Homo sapiens: one gene and its partner. The protein of the gene in region 1 interacts with the protein of each later gene in a pairwise test. Each region holds a gene or a part of one and is shown on either strand. Other genes may lie near its edges.

Region 1 (5,232 bases):
ACCACATCCCCCAGCCTCAAAGTTGAGAGTTAAACCCACTAAGCCGAAGGTAAGCTCCCTCTTGCCAATGAGGCTGCTTCCCTCAAAGGATTGTTTGCCAAAAGCCTGACTATGAGTAGTTTAAGAAGTCTGCTTAGCAGTAGCATTTCCAAACTGGGCCTCCATTTTCTGGATTTCTTTAGATGGACTTACCTTTATTGAACCAACGATATTCAAAGCAGTACAGTGAGTAGAGAAGGGACATATGCAGGAGACTAACCAGCTGACCGACAAGATGGATGGGAAAGAGACTCACAAACATTCCCTGAAGAACAAATATGGAAAATCTTAATCCCAAAGCCTCGGAAACCTAGCACCATTCACCTGTCACTCTCCAATCACTGTCTGAGATAGCTTCCTAGCTGCTTCTCAAGTTTCTAAAAGGCCGAGTGCAGGGTGGGCACAGTGACTCATTCCTGTAATCCCAACAGTTTGGGAGGATGAGGCGGGAGGATCTCTTGAGGCCAAGAGTTAAAGACCAGACTGGGCAACATACTGAGACCCTGTCTCTACAACAAGATTTTTAAAATGAGCATGATGGCATGTGCCTGTAGTCCCAGCTACTCAGGAGGCTAAGGCAGGAGGATTGCTTGAGCCCAGAGTTTGAGGCTGCAGTGAGGTATGATTGTGCCACTGTACTCCAGCCTAGGTGGCAAAATAAGACCCTGTCTTTTATTTATTTATTTATTTTTGAGACAGTTTTGCTCTTGTCGCCCAGGCTGGAGTGCAATGGCGCGATCTCGGCTCACTACAATCTCTGCCTCCTGGGTTCAAGCGATTCTCCTGCCTCAGCTTCCCGAGTAGCTGGGATTACAAGCATGTTGCCACCACGCGCAGCTAATTTTTGTATTTTTAGTAGAGATGGGGTTTCACCATGTTGGCCAGGCTGGTCTCAAATGCCTGACCTTAGGTGATCCGCCCACCTCGGCCTCCCAAAGTGCTGGGATCACAGGCATGAACTACTGCGCCCAGCCGACCCGTCTGTCTCTTTAAAAAAAAAAAAAAATTAGGCATAACTATAAAAAGAAAAAAAGTTTCCACCTGGCAGGACTGGAGAATAACCAGAGTAGCAGAAAAAAGCAGGTAAATTCATGTTTCTTATAATTTTATAATGTAATTTTAAAATTCTCATTTCCGTGGGGAAAAAAAGATTTAAAAATCATTACCTCCCACCAGCATATATATAATACTCTGTATAAATATAATACTCTGTCTTTGTGAAGTTCTCTCTAGTGAAACAGTTTTTCTTTTTAATAAAGCTGCCCATATGCCCAGAAGGTCAGTCTCACCTGAATGAGGAAAAGAGCCTGCAGCAAAAGGTTGAAGAGCATGTCAGCAATTATTTTGCTGACACTAGGGAATGGGTGAGGCTTCCTCCCTGATACCTCAAATGCCAGGTCAGCTATATCCTGTAACAGAGAAAGTGTACCAAAACATGAATTAAATGGCCTTGATATACATCCCCAAAGCTAAGGCCACTAGTCCGCCACTAGAGCTGCCAGTTAAGAAAAGGCTTATTTAAAAATAAGCTGGGCACGATGGCATGTGCCTATAGTCCCAGCTACTCAGGAGGCTAAGGTAGGAGGATTGCTGCCTTATGCCGTGGCTCACGCCTATAATCCCAGCACTTTGGGAGGCCGAGGCAGGCAGATCAGCAGGTCAGGAGTTTGAGACCAGCCTGGCCAACATGGTGAAACCCTGTCACTAATAAAAATACAAAAAAAATTAGCCAGGCATGGTGGCACGTGCCTGTAGTCCCAGCTACTTGGAAGGCTGAAGCAGGAGAATTGCTTGAACCCGGGAGGCAAAGGTTGCAGTGCACTCCAGCCTGGGCGACAGAGTGAGACTGTCTCAAAAAAAAAAAAAAAAAAAAAAAAGCCAAAACGAAAAAGAAAAGGCACCAGACACCTGCCAATGAGATGCTGAGACAATAATTCCATTCTGTAAGAACACAAAGATCAGCTACTGGCTACCTGGCCAAGAAACATTAAGGCTGAAAAACAGGTCCCCCTACATGCCCACTAACTTCACAGGCTGAAACTTGTCACCTGTCAGCCAATCATGCTGCGGGACCCAGACTCCATTCTGCCCTGGACCTACCTGAAACCAAATGGCATTCACCACTTTGCTAAGCACAAACAAGGGGAGCACCCAAAGAGCACTGAAAATTGACGTGAGGAAGAATTCCAGCCACGACCAAACATCTCCATGTAGTGATGGGTCACCTAAGAAAGAGGAAACGAGTTACTAGAAATGGAGAAATGGAAATCCAGAAGACCAAATGCGGAACCCCCATCTCGTGACTATTCTCTGTCTCCTCCTGGATCTTTCTAGTTCTTGCCAGCACATCACTATACCTATCTCAAAGAGTCTAACTCATAATAGACGCACCACATTCTGGCCACAATTCCAATTCAAAGAAACCATAGATATGTGCTGCTTGACACAAACCTGCTTACATGATGGTAACGAGATGCCACAGTGATTACCAGTACGCTATCTGCAGGATACCATCTGGGTTTAAATCTCAGCTTTGCCTCTTACTAATGGTTTAACCTTGGTAACTTGCATTTCCTCATTCATAAAATGGATAGAACAACAGTACCCATTCTTAAAGGGCCTCTAGGAGAATAACGAAATATAAATTTTTAAAAAGAATAAAACAACAAAAAAGAAAATAAACAGTGAAAGCTCCTGGTACACAGGAAATGTTCAGTAAACTGAGGGAGACTGAAACATCATCTCCCACTCTGTCCCCAACAGACAAGGAGCAGGGTATACACTTACCGATAATTCGGGCTGTTACCGACTGAAGCACAGGAATAAATACTCGATAAAACAAGAGGAGACTGAACTAAAGAAAAGAAGCAACAAGGCAAACATCAAAATCCAGTCTTTAAAACAGGAGCTTCAATTTTTAGTGTAATGATTTTATAGATGGGAGTGACTTTTATAAATCAGGAGGCCTAGGCCGGGCGCGGTGGCTCATGCGCGGTGGTTCACTTTGAGAGGCCAAGGCAGGCAGATCACTTGAGGTCAGGAGTTCGAGACCAGCCTGGCCAAGATGGTGAAACCCCGTCTCTACTAAAAATACAACAATTGGTCGGGTGTGGTGGTGCATGCCTGTAATCCCAGCTACTGGGAAGGCTGAGGCAGGAGAATCGCTTGAACCCGGGAGGCAGAGGTTGCAGTGAGCCAAGATCATGCCACTGCACTCCAGCCTGAGCAACAGAGCGAGCCTCCATCTCAAATAAATACATAAATAAATAAATAAAATAAATCAGGAGGCCTGAAAAAGCACCAAAACTGGATCCATTTCTATTTCCCAACACTCCAATTGAGAGATACAAACTTGATATTGCCTATAAAACAATGAAACTTTTGGGGGCATACAGGAACATTTCAAGTAGTATTCAGGCCAAAATACAGGCATGTACTAAGTACACAGGAATACATATTAATTAAATTTAAAACTAACATCTGAAAACATCTGTGAATTGTTTAGATTAAGAAGTGATGAATTACTCTAAATTCTAAGTCAAAGGAAATATTTATCCATTCTTCAAAGTACCCAAATTTCAGTTAAGCCTGCACTGGGATTCTCAGTAAATGGTAGGCAATCTTTTCTGCTATAGGTTTCAATGCAAATTAACTCTTGTTGATCACTATAAGCAGAAGCAGGGAGAACCTTGTTCTTGTCTAGCCGTATCTGCCCTTCCCGAGTCCCCATAGTTGCTGTTAGCATTTTAAAATGTCTAGACAGTGTCAAGAGAAACTGCTACCTCTAATACTTGTGAATGAGTCATTTTAGAAACAAAATTCAAGTGTATATTCAGGGCTGTGACGTTTGCTTACATATAAGTGTGCTTTCCTGAGTGGGAATAAAATCTCTGCAGATGCACAGACTCCTGAGTTATATTTCTAAGTGTACATCAGCAGATGAAAACTATTTGTCTCAGTGTTTCAAGAAAACAGTTCATAGCTATCAACCCAGCAACAATCTGAAGATGCTTATAAGGCACCTGGAATTTAAAGAACTTACCCAGAACACTCCACCATTCCAAGCACAACACTGGAAAATTCTACTAACAATACGTGGCTCACTGGAAAAGATCACATGTATTTAGTTTATAAAGCATAAGTTATTTCCTAATTGTCATTCAGTAGTTCATTTTATATCTTATCTTTTGTGGGTACTGTATTATTTTTCAGTGCCTCATGTTCTCCCAATGTTCTAATGTCAGTCAATGAGAAAAGACTAAAAAAATGGTCAAGCGCAGTGGCTCACGGCTGTAATCCTAACACTTTGGGAGGCCGTGGTAGGCGATCAACTGAGGTCAGGAGTTCGAGACCAGCCTGGCCAACATGGCAAAACCCTGTCTCCACTAAAGAATATAAAAAATTAGCCAGGCGTGGTGGTGCGCACCTGTACTTCCAGCCAGCCGGTTCGCTGAGGCAGAAGAATTGCTTGGACCTGGGAGGCAGAGGCTGCAGTAAGCTGAGATTGCACCACGGCAATCTCAGGTGACAGCTTGGTGACAGGGCAAGAATCCGTCTCAAAAAAAAAAAAAAATGTGTATATATATGGAACCAGCTTTTAAAAGAAAAATAATTTATTTTCTAAAGTCTGATGATGGAAAAGATTAAGAGAAAGTGTGGGGCCAGGGTTCTTCTATTAATACATAAATCCACACAGGCTTCCCTAGAAGTATCTATCAAACCAAATAATATTTTGCGATTCTCTATTCAGCTTTCTGATTTAACACCATGACATTTTTAGCAAGGATTATTGTTAGACCCTAGTTTAAGTCAATGTTGTTGGGGGGAAATCACTTGCAACATTTTTCTGGGAAAAAGCACAAAAGAAATAAAATGGCACTGAAACATCAAGTCACTATGTAAGGTCTTCCCTCCCTTGGACATTTTGATATCAGGCATGCACTCCTTACCTCTCTTGCTTCCGCTCTATACTCTGGGCTCTTCTCTGTGCCAAGACACTACTTGCCCTTCTTCGACGCTGCTCCTCTCTCTTTTGCTGGATTCGAGCATCTAGCTTTGAGATGGTACAAATACCCCAGATGGAGTCTTTGATTCCCTATAGAAAAGGCTATCATTATTATTATTATTATTTGAGACAGGGTCTTGCTTTGTCACCCAAGCTACAGTGCAGTGACTCAATCATAGCTCACTGCA
Region 2 (3,500 bases), on another chromosome or scaffold:
CAGCCTGGCCAACATGGTGAAACCTCATCTCTACTAAAACTACAAAAATTAGCCGGCTGTGGTGGCGCACGCCTGTAATCCCAGCTACTCAGGAGTCTGAGGCAGGAGAATTGCTTGAATCCAGGAGACGGAGGTTGCAGTGAGTTGAGATCATGCCACTGCACTACGGCCTGGCCGAGAAAGCAAGACTCCTTCTCCAAAGAAAAAAAAAAAAAAAAAAAAAAGGTATTAACCAGTTATGTCTGTGTGTGTACATGCACATGTGCGTGCAAAATTCTACACACTTTGTGGCAATGGGTGTTTTCAGGAGGACAAGGAGAGAGACAGAGACAGAGAACTAGTGTGTTTAAAAATAAAAATTTCTAAGAAACAATGATAAAAAAAATCTATAAACATTATATTTACCCTTAATGCTGACTAGACCAATGCTTATAAACTTAAAAAAGCAAAAAGTGAAACATACAAAAGGAAAAATAAAACTAATAAAGGCCATAACAATCTACAAATGGAAAATTATAGGTTCAATTTTTAAAAGAATTTTCCAGCAACCTCACTTTTCTCTCTCAGAGTTTCCCAAAGTGGAAGGGACAGACTGCCTTCCCCATTTGGCAGATAAAAAACAGGAGCGGAGGCATTCAGTGTGATTTGCCTAAAATTACTGACAGAACTGAGAGTACTATTTCCACTTTCCTAAATCCTCCAGTGTACCTCAAGAAAACACATAGAAGACTCACAAGCCCAAAGATGGAGTAACGACCATGAAAACTGGAGCATTTTACTACTTACAAAATTTCAAGGGAATGAAAATTTTAGAATACTTATTAAATCAAAATGGAAGAGAATTAACAAAAAAGCTCTACTTAATAGCTTTTCTAAGCATTCTATTATAGTATTTATCTCCATGGCCTGCAAACATTAATCTACTTCAGGCACTTCAGAGTATAAGCCATAAAACACATTTAAATGATACAAAGGAGAGAAGATAAAATCATTATAAAAACAGCAATCAGAAAGCCCTCCATCTTTGAGTATATTAATATATACCAGTGCATTCTCTATTAATTTCTCTACCAACTTCCCTAAGAAAGCTTCAACACTGAATGAATAATAATAATAAAAAATTTCATAAAATATGCTCTTTCTGGGGTACTGGGGGTAGGGAATGATTGACTTGGTAAGAGTGAACTTGAGTCAACAGTTAATAATCCAAGCCAAATTCCAGACAAATGATGTTCTGTTGACTCTTGAATAGAAAAGAATAATTCAGTGATTAACATATTCCCCCACTCCCTAAACTATATTAAGCTGTCTTCTCCATATGTTTAGAATTTCCCTCAGGAAGCATTTAACTTCTGCAAAGGTCTTTTTAGTAATAATTTTCTATGCTCTTTCCTGTAAGACCATTAAAAAAATTTTTTTTGTTGTTTTTTGAGACAGGGTCTTACTCTGTCACCCAGGCTGGAGTACAGCGGCTCAATCATATTTCACTGTGGCCTCTACTTCCTGGGCTCAAGTAATCCTCCTGCCCTAACCTCCCAAATAGCTGGGACTAGAAGCATGGCCCACCAGGCCTGCATAATTTCTTTTATTTTTTGTAGAGACAAGGTCTCCCTATGTTGCCCAGCTGATCTTGAACTCCTGGCCTCAAGCAATCCTCCTGCCTTTGCCTCCCAAAGTGTTAGAATTACAGGCCTAAGCCACCATGCCCAGCCTTCTGTAAGGCCATTAAAGAATATAACATTAGGAACTAAAGTTGGAACTGGATGGGTTATTCTGAGGAAGGATTTGATGTCTAATAAAAGGAGATTTCCCTGCATTCATAATACAACCAGGAGCTTATCTGAAAAGTCAGCAATACCTTCCCATTCCGTTATCCCCTTACATAAAAAACCTAAATATTTACCAATTCTAATATTTGGTAAGTATACTTGGCTATTCATAATACTAAAACAATAGGGAGCTCCCCAAATAAAGCCAATTTGAAATGGTTTAAGTCTGTTGCATGGTATAATTTATTTATTTGTATTAGTATTTTTTTTTGAGACAGAGTCACACTCTGTGGTGTGATCTCAACTCACTGCAACCTCTGCCTCCTAGGTTTAAGTGATTCTCCTGCCTCACTCAGCCTCCCAAGTAGCTGGGATTATTGGGTGTGGCACCACGCCCAGCTAATTTTTATATTTTTGGTAGAGAGGGGGTTTCACCATATATGGTGGACAGGCTGGTCTTGAACTCCTGACCTCAGGTGATCCGCCTACCTCAACCTCCCACAGTGCTGGGATTACAGGCATGAGCCACTGTGCCCAGCCTAATTTATTTTTAAAAAGGCTAGTTTACATGATCTGGTTATTTTTTATTATTAAGGCTCATTTAGACACTAACAGTTCAGTAGTAACTAGAAGAATTAAATTCTGTTGCTTTATCAAATATTAAAATATAATGCTGATCCAAAAACAGCCTCCCAATTTTAAGCAAATTCGTGCTACAAAAAATGAACAGCATTATTCAGTCAAAGCAAATACTCTGAAATATACTTACATAACAAATATTCAAGGACATCATTTTAAAGATAAATTTTATTTCAAAGCTATTGTTAAATATACCAACAAGAGGCAGGCGGATCACGAGGTCAGGAGATCGTGACCATCCTGGCCAACGTGGTGAAACCCAGTATCTACTAAAAAATACAAAAAATTAGTCGGGCATGGTAGTGGGCACCTGTAGTCCCAGCTACTTGGGAGGCTGAGGCAGGAGAATGGCGTGAACCTGGGAGGCAGAGCTTGCAGTGAGCTGAGATCTCGCCACTGCACACCAGCCTAGGCGACAGAGCGAGACTCCATCTCAAAACAAACAAACAAACAAACAAACAAACAAACAAAACAAACCCAACATGAAGTACTATACTAGTCAGAATTCAGATTTCATTTAGTTTTCAGTGTCAATCCAACTTGTGGTCAAGATATTTTAAAGTTCAATAAACCTATTTGTTACCGTATCCTAAAACTGCTTACTTTAATACAATCAGTTAGAATGAGGTGACATATTCTTGAAACAGCAACAACATATGCTCATTGTAAAATGTTTTAAATATTAATTTAATAAACAGAAAATTCCAGGAGGAAGTAAATATGTAGTAACAGATAATTTTGTGATTATTAGGATGATTATATAGCTACCTTAGTGTTTCTAAAGGGATATTTTAATTATTCTCACAGTTTAAAAACCATATCTCTCAGAGATGAACTTTAATTAATTAAAGTTTATCAACAGTGCAGTTTTCAGGCCTGTTTTGACAATAATCTTTTGTGATTATAAATTGAGTAACTAATAACACTTAGTATTGGGTAATTTATTTCAAATAAGATTATAATCAGCCTATCAACAAATGAGGCAATATGTAAAAGTGATTAACTGAACTAATAAATTTTTTTATGCTTAGGTCCAGTAAGTCCCAAGACTTTTAGAGAGAATGCAGTATGGTAAAACTGAAATAATACCTC

The links.
Region 2: the proteins of EI24 (region 1) and PGRMC2 interact in binary tests that used the Homo sapiens proteins (3 or more experiments, as listed by UniProt).

What each region holds. Positions count from the first base shown.
Region 1 is NC_000011.10:125,575,165-125,580,396, reverse strand, and holds part of EI24 (etoposide-induced protein 2.4 homolog), read right to left. Parts: intron 5,135-5,232; coding exon 4,989-5,134; intron 4,143-4,988; coding exon 4,082-4,142; intron 2,894-4,081; coding exon 2,827-2,893; intron 2,662-2,826; exon of another isoform or gene 2,491-2,661; intron 2,265-2,490; coding exon 2,140-2,264; intron 1,449-2,139; coding exon 1,329-1,448; intron 305-1,328; coding exon 193-304; intron 1-192. UniProt on the Homo sapiens protein: Acts as a negative growth regulator via p53-mediated apoptosis pathway. Regulates formation of degradative autolysosomes during autophagy.
Region 2 is NC_000004.12:128,274,314-128,277,813, forward strand, and holds part of PGRMC2 (membrane-associated progesterone receptor component 2), read right to left. Parts: intron 1-3,500. UniProt on the Homo sapiens protein: Required for the maintenance of uterine histoarchitecture and normal female reproductive lifespan. May serve as a universal non-classical progesterone receptor in the uterus.